Linked DNA regions of Homo sapiens: regions 1 and 3 are each linked to region 2. Evidence: fine-mapped expression QTL. A gene starts in region 2. Each other region holds a variant in brackets. All regions are shown on one strand. Distances are from middle to middle. Region 1 has its middle 47 kb from the start of UBP1. Region 2 holds the start of FBXL2 (F-box and leucine rich repeat protein 2). Region 3 has its middle 25 kb from the start of FBXL2.

Region 1 (5,476 bases), 210 kb before region 2:
GACGTCCCTGACTGCTGCTGCCTTCCTTCAAGCTCAGTTATTTCCCCAGCCTGGCCCTGAACTGTTCCACCTTAACGATCGTAAACCCAGCAGTTCATTTGCCAATTGCACGCTTTAATTTTTTAATTGTGATAAAAAATACATAGCATTAAATTTGTCATCTTAACCATTTTTAAGTGTAAAGTTCGAGTGTTAAGTATATTTACATTGTTTTGCAACAGATCTCTAGAACTTTTTTATCTTAGAATACTGAATCTCTATACTTTCATAAAATACTGATTCGGCCGGGCACAGTAGCTCATGCCTGTAATCCCAGCATTTTGGGAGGCCGAAGCAGGCCGGTCACAAGGTCAGGAGTTCGAGACCAGTCTGACCAACATGGTGCAACCCCGTCTCTACTAAAAATACAAAATTTAGCTGGGCATGGTGGCACGCACCTGTAATCCCAGCTACTCAGGAGGCTGAGGCAGGAGAATCGCTTGAATCTGGGAGGCAGAGTTTACAGGGAGCCAAGATCATGCCACTGCACTACAGCCTGGACGACAGAGCAAGACTCCATCTCAAAAAAAAAAAAAAAAAGCACTGATTCCTCTTTCCCACTTCCCTCAGTCCTTGGCAACCACTTTTCAACTTTGTTTTCATGATTTTTGACTACTTTAGATACTACATATAAGTGGAATCATATAGTATTTATCCTTTTGGGACTGGCTTATTTCACTTAACCATAATTTCTTCAAAGATTCATTCATATTGTAGCACATGACAGGAATTCCTTCTTTTTTAAGGCTGCATAACAGTTCCACTATATGTATTTATCACATTTTCTTTATCCATTCATCCACTGATGAATATTTGGATTGCTTCCACCTCTTGGCTATTGTGAGTAATGCCACACAGGCATTTGTTGTTGTTGTTGTTTTAACCATTTATGTGTTTCCAGCACTGTGAACAATACTTGGAACATAATAAGTACTTAATAATCATTTAATAAACGAATACAGGAATGAATTAGTGCAGTGAGCCTTTAGAATATCCAAATCCTGGATGGGCAGGGTGGCTCATGCCTGTAATCCCAGCACTTTGGGAGGCTGAGGCGGGCAGATCACCTGAGGTCAGGAGTTCGAGACCAGCCTGGCCAACATGGTGAAACCCTGTCTCTACTAAAAATACAAAAATTAGCCAGGCGTGGTGGCACACGCCTGTAATCCCAGCTACTTGGGAGGCTGAGGCAGGAGAATTGTTTGAACCCGGGAGGCAGAGGTTGCAGTGAGCCGAGATCATGCCACTGCACTCTAGCCTGGCCAATAGAGCGAGAAAAAAAAAAAAAAAAGAATATCCAAATCCCCTAAAAACAATAAAATTGTCCTATGGCTTTTCACATTCAGACTTTTGTTGCTGCTTTATATTTCAGCAAAAAAATACATAATAAATGCTTTATGCTAATTGTTCTTTCCTATGTGGTCTTGCACCAAGTACATTAGATGCATTACTTCTTTTAATTAGAATATTTAAGGCAGGTGTTATTATTATTATTATTTTATCATCATTCCTACTTTACAGAAGAAGAGACTGAGACTTAGAGAAGTTAACTGATTTGCCCAAGGTCTTGTAGCCTACAAGTTGTGTAACCAGTCTTTAAACCCAGACTGTCTGAGGCCAGAGATAGAAAACTTAATCTCTGTGTGTGCTATAAATGCCCTAGCTATTCTACATGAACATTTTTAAGATTTTTCCCTCTTTATGAATATGAGTGTCCATTAAGACCTTAAAAAAAATCCTATGGCATTTCAAAATTGCTTTTGAATGACTGGTGCATGAAAATACTGAGTTTCTAAAAATGTACATATGCGACCTAGGTAAGTACTCAAGTAAAGTAATATTCATAGTTGTTAAAGAAGAAGATGCAGTTTCTATATCCTCTTTTTTACTGGAAGCATTAATATAATGAGGCCTCACAATGCAACTCAAACAACATTTGTCTTGGAGGTAGATGTTGAATAACCTAAAGCAGGGCTGGTCAGGGCAGCAAGAGCTCCGTGGTTGCAGCTCCCTCACCTCCAATTCCCAATGTTCCAGCAGCTCACTGAGACTGCTGATCCTTCTGATTACATCATCCTTTCCCAATTGTCCTTTCTCGCTTTGCTTGTCTGTCTTCAAGACTGGATGGTGAAGAGAGTCTCAGGAAGACATCATACAACATCCTGATGGAGGAGTAGCCAGCCCAGATGAGAACTGGGTATAGTTGATTCTAGGAGGAAGGTCTCCAAGGGAAAGAAAGAGGAGGATTTACTTGATGAGTGGATACATTGAGGGTACTTCTTCAGATTTGGGAAGTGAATTAACATAGGTAAACTTCACAATAAAGCAAATGAAAAGCAAAGGCTGTATCACAATACACTATATCCTCATGTATGACTAATATTTAAACACACATAACAATAATGGAAGCTGACTTAACCAAAAAGTTGATATAACCGTGATGATGCAGGAGGTATGTAGAGTTGAATCCTCACCTTCCACTGTAAAAAGCCAATA[G/A]AGCCGGATGCAGTGGCTCACACCTGTAATCCCAGCACTTGGAAGGAAGCCAAGGCAGGCCGATCACTTGAGGACAGGAGTTCAAGACCAGCCTGGCCAACATGGCGAAACCCCGTCTCCGCTAAAAATACAAAAAAATTAGCTGGGTATGGTGGCACGCGCCTGTAATCCCAGCTACTCAGGAGGCTGAAGCACAAGAATTAGTTGAATTTGGGAGACGGAGGTTGCCGTGAGCCAAGATTGCACCATTGCACTCCCGGCTAGGCCACACAGTGAGACTCTCTGTCTCAAAAAAAAAAAAAAAAAAAAAAGCTGGCCGGGCACAGTGGCTCATGCCTGTAATCCCAACACTTTGGGAGGCCAAGAGGGGCAGATCACCTGAGGTCAGGAGTTCGAGACCAGCCTGGCCAACATGGTGAAACCCCATCTCTACTAAAAATACAAAAATTAGCCAGGCATGATGGTGGGTGCCTGTAGTTCCAGCTACTCGGGAGGCTGAGGCAGGAGAATTGCTTGAACCCAGGAGGTGGAGGTTGCAGTGAGCCGAGATCACGCCACTACACTCCAGCCTGGGTGACAGAGCGAGACACCTTCTCAAAAAAAAAAGAAAAAAAAAAAAGCCAATAGATATTGTCTAGAACAGAATACCAGATAAAATCACTAAGAGTTAAAAGCGACTCCTTTTTGGAAAGTAGCAATCTCATGAGCCAGGAGAGTGGGACAGTTTTGTTAAAAGCCTAATGGTATTAATGGATATTCTAAAGGTTTCTAAGATTTTCCTCTCTTTGATTTTCTTTAAAAAATAGATAAATTACACCAGCACTTCCAGATGTGTGCTGTTCATGATGACAAAAACAATAACCAAAAAAAATCAATGCATGTGTGAATGATATATGATTTTAAGTTTGGGAAAAGATGCAAGGATACATTCAAGATTGCAGACATGCAACATGGAGGTGGGGTAGGAGGACTAAGGAAGAGAGAAGAAAGAGTGTTTGACATGTGGGATATATTAATAATTTCATTTATGTAAATATAGATTTGTATTTATGAAAGTCTTACCCTATGATATTGTTTGGTTGTATCCCCACCCAAGTCTCATCTTGAATTATAGCTCCCACAATTCCCACATGTTGTGGGAGGGACCAAGTGGGAGATAATTGAATCATGGGGATGGTTTCCCCCATACTGTTCTCGTGGTAGTGAATAAGTCTCATGAGATCTGATGGTTTTATAAGGGATTTCCCTTCACTTGGCTCTCATTCTCTCTTGTCTGCCACCATGTAAGACATGCCTTTTGCCTTTCGCCATGATTGTGAGGCCTCCCCAGCCACATGGAACTGTGAGTCCATTAAACCTCTTTTTCTTTATAAATTACCCAGTCTCAGGTATGTCTTTGTCAGCAGCGTGAAAACAGACAAATACACCCTACAAAAAATTAAGTAGGCGTTCCAGTCTTTTCTTCTGCTTCCTTGATCCCTCGCCACTCCTCAGTCTACTTTTCCACAGTCTGCCTTTTTCCCTGCCTTCATGTTTAAACCAGCCGTTATACATCACAAATGTCAGTCTTCAGTGCATGATGTTTGGTCAAAGGAAAGTGATATTTCAGTTCAGAAAATACCCTATCACATCAGTAACCCATGATGGTACGATTTGATCAGACTGATTCTTGCTTCAGATTCCCAGACTTCAGCTTTTAACATCTTTCCTACAAAAGAAAAAGTATTACTTTTGAAATTTCTGGTTTTAATGTCATGAAACATTTTGCTATTCCACAGAACAGCTGCATCAACATCACCCAGAAACTCAATACAGAATGCCAGACCCTACCTCAGACCTACTGAGTAAGAATCTGCATTTTTGACAATGTTCCCAGGTAATTTATATGCACATTATAGTTTATGATTCATATGCATATTAAAGTTTGAGAAGCACTAATCTAGAGTTATTTATGATAACACAAATTTTAATATTGCATGATACTCTGATTTCAAAATTCTTTATTTTAGCAACTAACAAGCAGTTCATGGATTCCACTTTTAATGCTTCCAGTTAGCAGCTTCTTTTTTTCATTACACATTCCCATAGGAAATCTATATACAAATGTATTAACTGCAATAAGGGAATTCCAGTACTGCATCCCTAAGATTACACACCCTTTGTTAATGAAATTTCATGTTGTATCATCATGAAATACCAACTAGCCTGACTCAAGTTACCAATCAAGTTTATTCTTCTGAGAAATAAATACTACAAATATAATTACATTCCATTAAAAATATATATATTCAACTGTACTTGGACATCTATTCAAATGTCAAGCATTGTTCTTGGCACTAGGAATACAGCACTGAAAAAGTAGACAAAAATCTGTTCTCTCATGGAATTCATATTCTGGTTAGAGACAAAAGATAAATAAGAAAAATATAGCATACATGAGATAGTAGTGAGCACTAAAAAAACGGGGAAGGGGGATTTTTTTTTTTTTTTTTTTTTTTTGAGATGGAGTTTTGCTCTTGTCGCCTAGGCTGGAGTGCAATGGCGCCATCTCGGCTCATTGCGACCTCCACCTCCTGGGTTCAAGCAACTCTCCTGCCTCAGCCTCCTGAGTAGCTGGGATTACAGGCACCCACCACCATGCCCAGCTAATTTTTTGTATTTTTTAGTAGAGATGGGGTTTCACCATGTTGGCCAGGCTGGTCTCAAACTCCTGACCTCAGGTGATCCAGCCACCTCAGCCTCCCAAAGTGCTGGGATTACAGGCGTGAGCCACCGCACCCGGCTCAGGAAGGGGGATTTTTTAAAGGCAGAGACATAATGCGATCTTATGAAGGCTGGTCAGTGAAGACCCTACTGAAAGGGATATTGAGCAAAGACGTGAAGGTAGTGGAGTGTGACAGGCAAAATAATAGCTCCCCAACAACGTCCATATCCTAATGCA
Region 2 (5,000 bases):
AGATTCAAGCAGTTAAGGAAGTGTAATGTGATTTAGAACACAGTTCTGGGGGCCAGGCATGGTGGCTCAAGCCTGCAATCCCAGCTTGGGAGGCCAAGGCAGGAGGATCACAAGGTCAAGAGATGGAGACCATCCTGACCAACATGGTGAAACCCCATCTCTACTAAAAATACAAAAATTAGCTGGGCGTGGTGGCACTCGCCTGTAGTCCCAGCTACTCGGGAGGCTGAGGCAGGAGAATGGCGTGTACCCGGGAGGCGGAGCTTGCAGTGAGCCGAGATCGCACCACTGCACTCCAGCCTGGGCGACAGAGCGAGACTCCGTCTCAAAAAAAAAAAAAAAGAATACAGTTTTGGGGATGACATATATATGCAGCCGCTTCATCCCTCTCCCTCCTGTACCAACCATTCCCCACTTCCATGGAAGCCTGGACACCTTATCAATCAATTAAGCTCCTGTGAGTTAAATTCTTAATGCTTAAAGACAAACAAAAAGCAAAGCATTATTAAGTTCAGCAAAGCAACCACTAATACAAAACTACAGTAAATGCTTTTATTTTAAAGTAAAACTCTAAAATTCACAATAGTGAATGAGGGTGGGCTGTGGGTCAGAACGAAAGAAGTGGAAGAAGTAAAAATAAAGGAAAATGGATGACAGGAGGAATATGAGACTTCAGAGAGCTGTGAAAAATTAATTCCTGGATATTCTTTCTCCTTGCTACAATTGTTAGGGCTTTTCTCACATATAACATATTACAGTAAATTACTGCAATATTTGAAACACTTATATCTTCATAAAATTCAGTTTCTGAAACTCTTGCCAGCTCCATTAATTTGTCACTTAAAAAGCAATTCGCAATTTAAAAAAGAAACATACACAAAATAAAGGCATTACATGGTACTGTGATTTATGGGTGATGTTTTTCTCCTGCCAGCAATAATGCCACACATTTGGAAGTTGCTTTTCCAGAGTCAATGAGAGACACCATCCACCTCCCACCACCATCCCTCTCCTTGGTTATTAAGAAAAAAACTGAGCCAGCCAGGATTCCTAATGATAGTTTTTTCTCCATGAGGCCAGCTGGCACTCGGGGAGCACCCTGCATTCTCAGCTCATCAGCACTTCCACTAAACTCCTGCAGATAAGGAGAAAATCTCCACTTAATTACTCATGGTTAAAACAAAACTAAGTATTTCCCTATTACCTACACCTACCGCCATACCTCCTCAAGTATTCTATACCAAGGGTGTGTCCCCAAGCAAGGAGTCTAGCTCCTCTCTTCTCTTACACCCCGTGAAGGCCTCTGGAGAATTATGCCTTCGGTTGGCAATTCTCTGAACTTGTCTGTTCAAGCCAGCACCTCCGCCGAGTGAAACCGAGCAACGTTTTTAAAACGAGCTTAAAGGGGGCCAGGTGTTATGCCCACGCCGTCTGAAGTTAACTGAACAAAGGTAATGATTTAAGACGTTTACAATGCACTAATTATGAATTAATTAAATCCCTTAGTGAGGGTGCGGCACTCAGAAAAAAAAACCCTCCAGCTTAATGCCCTCTATTTTTTAGAAAGGAGGGGAGGGGTCTCTAAAATCAAAAATTTTAATTTCCACGTGCTAAAAAACCTATCAGAATGCTGATTTTGAAAGGAAGATATATGTCTTATATTAGTTACACATAACTGCATAGAAACAAAACTGGAGGCATATAGACTGCTTTAGTGTAAATATAAATACATATGATATCCATATACAAGATTTTTTTTTTTAACCACACCCTCCTTGGGTGGCTTCCCAGGCTCTCTCGGGCCAAACAGCGTCACGTCGTCCGGCGGCCCACTGGGTGGGGGTCCGGGCTGTCACCCCGACTCCAGCGGCAGGGAACGCTGCATCGCGGTCGCCCCCCGGCAGGCGGGCGCTCTGAATCCCCCAGGTTACCCCTCCCCGGGCCCGCCCAGCCCTGCCCTGCCCAGCAGCCTCGCAGGCCGCGGCCCGGCCTCTCCACGACCCCTGCGCCGCCTGCCCGACCCTAGCGGGCGGCGGCGTGCGGACCCAGCCCGGTAGGGGTAGGGCGGGGCAGCTAGGCAGACGCGGGTCCCAGACTCACCATGGCCGAAGAGCCGCGAGCGAGCCCACAGCCCGAAGTCACACGGCGCCGGCGACGCCCGTTGTCCTGGTGACGCCAGCCAGGCGCCCCGCCCCGTCCCCAAGGTGGGCTCGGAGGCGGCCATTGGTGGTCGGCGAGCACGTGACCCGCAGGGGCGGTGCCCTTTGGACCGCCCACCCCTCGCCCCCGGCCCTGGAACTGGGCCTCTTCGCCTCTCCCACTTCGTATCTGGTCCATCCTCTCAGTCTGATCACCTTGATGTCCCTCACCTGACAGATTACCCAGCCGCAGACTGCCCAGCTGAAAGAGACCATGGATTTTTTTTTTTTTAAAAAAAACGTTATACAGGTAATGCATGATTATTGAAAACATTTTAAATTACCAATAACAAGAATTTAAAAGGATAAAACGACACTCACCCCAGCACCTGAAGTAGCTACTGCTCAGATTCCATTCTATCTGCTTCAAGCTTCCAATGAGTTGTTATAATATACTGTATTCTTAAAAATGGTGGCAAACCATAGGTAACTGTTTTATAATCTACTTTTTTAGATTAAAAATGATTATCTTGGGGCCAGGCGCAGTGGCTCACGCCTGTAGTCCCAGCACTTTGGGAGGCCGAGGCGGGCGGATCACGAGGTCAGGAGATCAAGACCATCCTGGCTAACACGATGAAACCCCATCTCTACTAAAAATACAAAAAATTAGCCAGGCATGGTGGGGGACGCCTGTAGTCCCAGCTACTCGGCAGGCTGAGGCAGGAGAATGGCGTGAACCCGGGAGGTGGAGCTTGCAGTGAGCTGAGATCACACCACTGCACTCCAGCCTGGGCGACAGAGCAAGACTCCGTCTCAAAAAAAAAAAAAAAATTATTATCTTTGCATACCACTTAATGGAATAGCATTCTATGCATGTTGTCTAATTCATTAAATCAACTGGCAATTTGTTGAATGTTTTTAATATGGTTGAAGGGAACTCTAGATATCCTGAAATCTAGTCCATTAACTCTATGAAGAAGGACCCAGTGCGATGGGACACTTGTAGTTCCAGCACTTTGGGAGGCTGAAGCAGGAGGATTGCTTGAGGCCAGGAGTTTGAGACCAGCCTGGGCAACATAGCAAGACCCTGACTCGAAAGAAAGAAAGAGTGAGAAAGGCCGGGCGCGGTGGCTCACGCCTGTAATCCCAGCACTTTGGGAGGCCGAGGCCCATGGATCAAGGGGTCAGGAGATTGAGACTATCCTGGCTAACACGGTGAAACCCCGTCTCTACTAAAAATACAAAAAATTAGCCGGCATGGTGGCGGGTGCCTGTAGTCCCAGCTACTTGGAGGCTGAGCCAGGAGAATGGCGTGAACCCAGGAGGTGAAGCTTGCAGTGAGCCAAGATCGTGCCACTGCACTCCAGCCTGGGCAACAGAGTGAGACTCTGTCTCAAAAAAAAAAAAAAAAAGAAAGAAATAGAGAGGGAGGGAAGGAAGGAAGGAAGGAAGGAAGGAGTGAGTTTTGGTGTGTTAGAAGCAGAAAAAAATGACAAAATAAAAACAACAACAAAAAAAGTTACAAAAAAGAGAAAAAGAATTTTAAAGTGTAAAAAAAAATCTGTGAAGAAGAATCATATTCAACAGCTGACCTGACATCTCCCCCGGAGTGCCTAATAGACATCACAACGTAATATGGCCCTAATTAACCTCTTGATCCAAGTTTCTTACTCCCCAGTCTTCTCAAAGCGAAAGTCCCTACTATCCCCTTGATTGTTAAGACAAAAACCTAGGAATTGTCCCTGATTCCGCTGTTTCCTCACACCTCACTTCCAGTCCATTATCACATATTCTTGACTCCACCTTAAATTCTCAATCTATCCACTCTACAACATCTCCACCTCACAACCACTATTGTCTCACCCAAATTCATCTCCATATGTGCTATGATTTGAATGTTTGTGTCCCCTTCAAACTTTATATGAAAACATATAAAATGTGACAGTTTTAGGAAGAGGACCTCAAGGAGGGGAGTAGGCCGTGAGAGCTCTGTCCTCATGAATGGGATTAATGCCCTTATAAGAGAGCCTGAGGGAGTGAATTCAGCCCCTTTTTGCCTTTTCATCCCTTCTGCCAGGTGAGGACACAGCAATCCTCCAGAGGATGCAGCAACAAGACACCATCTTGGAAGCAGAGCAGCCCTCACCAGACACCAAATCGGCCAGCCCATTGATCTTAGACTTCCCAGCCTCCAGAACTATGAAAAATAAATTTCTTTTGTTTATAAATTACACAGTCCTGTGGTATTTTGTTATAGCAGCACAAGTGGACTATGACCCCATGTCTTCCCTCCTGCATCCTACACAATAGCAGCATTTTCAGTGGCTTCTCATAGCACTTAAAAAAAAATACAGGCCGGGCAAGGTGGCTCACGCCTGTAATCCCAGCACTTTGGGAGGCCGAGGTGGGAGGACCACCTGAGGTCAGAAATTCGAGACCAGCCTGGCTGACATGGTGAAACCCCATCTCTACTAGAAACACAAAAATTAGCCAGGTGTGGTGACGGGCGCCTGTAGTCTCAGCTACTTGGGAGGCTGAGGCAGAAGAATCACTTGAACACGGGAGGCAGAGGTTGCAGTGAGTGGAGATCGCGCCACTGCACTCCAGCCTGGGTGACAGAGCAAGACTCTGTGTCCAAAAAAAAAGAAAAAAGAAAAAGAAAAAAATACAAATGCTTTCCATGGTCTACCAAAATGGTACACGATGGAGGCCTTGCCCACTGCACCAACTCCATCTCCTGTCACTCTTCCCTCATTCACGCCACACTAACCACACTTTTATTTCCTGAGGTTCCTCAAACGCATCAAATACTTTTGTACTTAAAAGCCTCAATAATATCTGCTTCCTTTATATGGAATATTC
Region 3 (5,476 bases), 25 kb after region 2:
GACTATCTGGGACTACAGGCGCCCACAACCACGACCTGCTAACTTTTGTTAGCAGGTATTTTTAGTAGAGACGAGGTTTCACCATGTTGGCCAGGATGGTCTCTATCTCTTGACCTCGTGATCCGCCCGCCTAGGGCTCCCAAAGTGCTGGGATTACAGGCGTGAGCCACCGCGCCCGGCCCCATACTGAACTTTTTACTGGTTTTTTTTTTTTTTTTTTTTTTTGGAGAAGGGGTCTCGCTCTGTCACCCAGGCTGGAGTGCAGTGGCGCGATCTCGGCTCACTGCAAGCTCCGCCTCCCGGGATCATACCATTCTCCTGCCTCAGCCTCCCAAGTGGCTGGGACTACAGGCACCCGCTACCACGCCCGGCTAATTTTTTGTATTTTTAGTAGAGACGGGGTTTCACCGTGTTAGCCAGGGTGGTCTCGATCTCCCGACCTCATGATCCGCCTGCCTTAGCCTCCCAAAGTGCTGGGATTACAGGCGTGAGCCACCACATCCGGCCATTTTTACTGTCTTTATACCTTTGCCTTTTCCAAAATGTAGTAGTTGGAGTCATACAGTATGGAGCCTTTTCAGACTGGCTTCTCTCACTTACCAATATACATTTAAGGTTCTTCCATGTCTTTTCATGGTTTCACAGCTCTTTTATTTTTATTGCTGATAATAATCTGTTGTGTGGATGTACCTGTTTATCCATTCACCTACTGAATGACATATTGGTTGTTTCCAAGTTTGGGTAATTATAAATAAAGCTGCTATAAACTTTGTATGCAGGTTTTTGTGTTCATTTTCAACTCATTTGTGTAAATACCAAGAAGCACAATTGCTGGGTCATATGGAAGGAGTATATTTAGCTTTCTTTAAAAAACTGCCAAACTGTCGTCCAAAGTGGCTGTATCATTTTGCACTCCCACCAGCAATGGATGAGCATCCTTGTTACTCTATAGCCTCACCAGAAGTTTTGGATTTTAGCCATTCTAATAGGTATATAGTGGTGTATAATTGTTCTAATTTGCAGTTCTCTAATGATATATGATATTATCTTTATCTTTTCATTTGCTTATTTGCCATCTGTACAACGCTGTGATCATAACTCACTGCAACCTCAAACACCTGGGGTCAAATGATCCTCCCAACTCAGGCTGCTGAGTCGCTAGGACTACAGGTGCATACCACCAGCTAATTTTTAAATTTTTTTTAGAGACGGGGTCTTGCCATGTTGCCCAGGCTAGTCCTGAACCCCTAACCTCAAGCAATCCTCCAACCTTGACTTCCCAAAGTGCTAGGATTACTGCATCTGGCCAAGAAGTGTTTTTTAAACTTCCACCGTGGCTGTCAATTTCTTTTGCATCCTTTGTCAATTTTTGTGTTATATAAAATTTAAAGCTATATTGTCCGTGCAATAGAATTGAGAGTCCAGAAATAAACCCATACATCTATGGTCAATTTTCAGCAAGGAGGTAAAGATCATTCAATAGGAAAAATAATAGTCTTTTCAACAAAATGTGGTGGGATAACTAGATATCCACATGCAAAAACAAAAGTAAAGTTGAGTTCTTACCTTACACCAAGCAAAAAATGAACTCAAAATGGATCAAAGACCTAAATGTAAGAGCTAAAAAATAGAAGATTCTTAGAAGGAAATATAGAAATTAATCTTCGCCACCTGGGATTTGACAAAGAATTCTTAGATATGACACTAAAAGCACAAGCAACCAAAGAAAAAATAGATAAATGGGGCTTCAACAAAATGAAAAACTTTTGTGTCTCAAACGACACAATCGAGAAAGAGAAAAGACAGCCCACAGAATGGGAGAAATTTTTTGCAAATCATGTATTTGATAAGGGACTTGTATCTAGAATGTATAAAGAATATTTACAACTTAATAATAAAAGGAAAAATACCTCAACTTAAAAATAGGCAAAGGCTCTGAATAGACATTTCTCTAAGAAAGATATATAAATAGCCAATAAGAACGTGAAAAGATACTTAGAATTATTAATCAGGAAAAGGCAAATCAAAACCACAATGAAGACCAGGCACAGTGGCTCACACCTGTAATCCCAGCACTTTTGAAGGCTGAGGCAAGTGGATCACTTGAGGGTCAAGAGTTTGAGACCAGCTTGGCCAACATGGTGAAACCCCATCTCTACTAAAAATACAAAAATTAGCCAGGCATGATGGTGGGCAGCTGTAATCCCAGCTACTCAGGGGACTGAGGCAGGAGAATCACTTGAACCCAGGAGGCGGAGGTTGCAGTGACCTGAGATCATGCCACTGCACTCCAGCCTGGGTGACAGAGTGAGACTGTCTCAAAACAAAACAAAAACCAAGCAAACAAAAAAAAAAAACCCACACAGTGAAATACCACTTCACACCCACTAGGAGGACTAGAATCAAAAGGTCAGATAGTAACAAGTGCTGGTGTCAATGTGGAGAAATTGGAACTCTCATAAACTACTGGTGGGAATATAAAAATGGTACAGCCACTGTGGAAAACAGTTTGACAGTTTCTCAAATGCTTAAACATAAAGTTACCATATAACCCAGCAATTCTTGTAAGTAAATATCCAAGAAAAGTGGAAACATGATTATACAAAAATTTTTATCTGAGTG[T/A]TCATAGAAACACTATCCATAATAACCAAAAGGAGGAAACAAACCAAATGTCCATCAGTAGATGAATAGACAAACAAAATGTGGTATATCCACATAACGTAATGTTCAGCCATAGAAAAGAAATGAAGTACTGATGCATGCTAGAACTTGGATGAGTCTTGAAAACATTGTGCAGTGAAAGAAGCCAGTTACAGAAGCCCAATTATTATATGATTCCATTCACATGAAAGTTCAGAAATCTATAGAGATAGAAAATAGTTGTTTAGGGCTGGAGGAGGAATGGGTTGGTAGGGTGATGATGACTAAAGGGTATGAGGTTTCTTTCCGAGTGATGAAAATATTTTAAAACCGACTGGTGGTGGTTGTACCTATCTGTGAATATACTAAAAACCCTTGAATTGTGCACTTTAAATGGGTGAAATACATGGTTTGTAAATTATATCTTAATAAAATAGCTTTTAAAAAATATATATGTTTTTAGCTCCTACACATTCTTAACAAATATCATCTTGACAATTTGTCATTTTATCAATATGAAATATCCCTCTTGGTCCTGAATTTTTCACCGTGAATCCTATTTACTCTTTATTACTTTACCAGATATCTTGCGTTATTATTAATCTGGTGTATCTTTCTCTATTCCTTTGTTATTAATTTTTCTGTGTTTCTTTCACCAGGTTTTTGTTTGTTTTAGAGAAGGGAGTCTCACTGTGTTATGTAGGCTGGCCTTGAACTCCTGGGGTCTATCAATACTCCTGCCTCAACCTCCCAAGTAGCTGAGACTACAAGCATGAGCCACCATGCCCAGCTTCTGTGTTGTTTTGCTCTAGGTTGTGTCCTTTGGAAGGTTGATTTTAGGTGATAGATAGATAGAAAGATAAACAATTTTTCACATATATGCATGCATAGATAGATGCCCTGTCTTTGAATAGATGAGTTTATAGATAATTTTTCATACATATGCATTTATGTATTATGTACGTGATTTATATAGGAATATGTTGTATCTGCAATATGAGATGCCCTCTCTATGAATTGATGAGTTTAATCTGTCCACATTTATTATGAATACTGTTGTATTTGAACTTGTTTCTGCAAACTTATTTTATAGGTTCCAGGTACTATTGTTTGGGTCTTTTTGCTTGTTTCTTCCTTACTGTTTGATTGAACAAGTTTTTCATTTTTCCCTCTACTTGTTTGAAAGATATACACATTGTTTCTAAACTTTTAGTAATTACTCTTAAAATATCAAAATAAACACACAAACATTTTTCTGTCAAAGTAGTTAATCAGTCGCTCTTTCCACCAAATAAAACAAGAACTCTAGTATGAGTTTTTCTTCCTTTTATCCTCAACCCTTACTTAACTCATATTATTTTTTAGAATTTTTTCTAAATATTTGAAATGGTTTCAAACCCACAGAAAGTTATGGTAAAAGAAAAGTTGCAAGAACAGTACAAGAACTCCCACATATCCTTAACCTAGATTCCCTAATTGCTAACATTTTATCACATTTGCTTCACTTTTGCTCAGTAGAGAGGTAGATAGATATATAATTATAAAATACTTTACTGGCATGATGCTGCATTATCCCTAAACACTAATTAGAGCTTCCCCCAAACAAGAACATTCTCCTCTGTTACCACGAAGCAGTCCTCCAGCTCAGGAAATCAACATTGATCCAACACTGCCATCCAATCCACAGACCCCATTCAAATTCCACCAACTGTCTCAACTATGTCTTTTTTTTTTTTTTCCTATCTGCTCCAGGAATACACTGCATTCCTTTAGCAGACTGTTTCTAAGGTGGCTCTCATGATCCTTGCTTCCTTGTGGTCAGGCCTGTGTATTATACTCTTCCACTGAGTATATGCTGGACTTACTGTCTTCTAACAAATAGAAAACAGCAGAAGTGATGGGATATCACTTCTGATATTTGGTTACAGAAAGACAGTGACTTTTTCCTTGGGCAGTCTCTCCTGCTCTCGTGCTCACTTTCAAGGAAGCAGCTGCCATCATGAGTTGCCCTATGGAAAGAATAGATAACCATCAATCCTGTGTGATAAGGAATTGATGTCTCCAGTCCCTAGTTCTGTCCATAGCTACATAAATGAGCTTGGAAGTAAATCCTCCCTTATTTGGGCCTTGGGATGACCATAGCCCTTAGCTAACAACTTGATTGCTGCTTTGTAAGAGACCTTAAGCCAGAAACATCCAGCTAAGCCACATTTGGATTCCTGTCTCACAGAAACTGCGAGATAATAAATGCTTGTTGAAATCAGTATATCAAAGAGATATCTGCATTCCCATGTTTGTTGCAGCTCTGTTCACAATAGCCAAGATTTGGAGGTGACCTAGTGTCCATCAACATGTGAATGGATAAAGAAAATATGGTACTTATACACAATGGAGTACTATTCAGCCACAAAAAAAAGAATGAGATTCAGTCATTTGCATCAACATGGATGGAACTGGAGGTCACTATGTTAAGTGAAATAAGCCAGGTACAGAAAGACAAACATCGCATTTTCTTACTTATGTGTGAGATCTAAAAATTAAAAAAAAAAAATTGAACCCATGGAGATAGAGAGCAGAAGGATAGTTACTAGAGGCAGTGAAGGATATTGTGGGGTGGGGGGTGAGGAGGGCATGGTTAATGGGTACAAAAAGAATAGTTAGAATGAATGAATAAGACCTAGTATTTGATAACACAACAGGGTAACTAATAGTCAATAATAATTTAATTGTACATTTTAAAATAAAGAGTATAATTGGATTGTTTGTAACACAAAAGATAAATGCTTGAGGGGATCTGATATGGTTTGGATAGGTGTCCCTGCCCAAATCTCATGTT

What was found. PIP is the estimated chance that this variant, and not a neighbour inherited with it, causes the effect. A credible set is the group of variants that fine-mapping cannot tell apart.
Region 1: its variant is the best candidate, but not a certain one, in a credible set for the expression of FBXL2 in gastroesophageal junction (GTEx, PIP 0.79).
Region 3: its variant is the best candidate, but not a certain one, in a credible set for the expression of FBXL2 in unexposed skin (GTEx, PIP 0.78).

What each region holds. Positions count from the first base shown.
Region 1 is chr3:33,485,083-33,490,558 of GRCh38, reverse strand. No RefSeq gene overlaps it. Among named protein-coding and RNA genes, the nearest start is that of UBP1, 47 kb to the right of the region's middle. The variant G/A (reference allele first, on the strand shown) is at 2,536.
Region 2 is chr3:33,274,616-33,279,615 of GRCh38, reverse strand. FBXL2 (F-box and leucine rich repeat protein 2) reads right to left here and starts at 2,174. Exons shown (of 15, transcript NM_012157.5): 1 at 2,101-2,174. The coding sequence starts at 2,103. It overlaps LOC124909362 (a long non-coding RNA gene), which reads left to right and starts at 2,262. Exons shown (of 2, transcript XR_007095861.1): 1 at 2,262-2,448; 2 at 4,216-4,369. RefSeq lists silencers at 1,904-2,083, 2,052-2,219, 2,284-2,353.
Region 3 is chr3:33,249,835-33,255,310 of GRCh38, reverse strand. No RefSeq gene overlaps it. Among named protein-coding and RNA genes, the nearest start is that of FBXL2, 25 kb to the left of the region's middle. The variant T/A (reference allele first, on the strand shown) is at 2,623.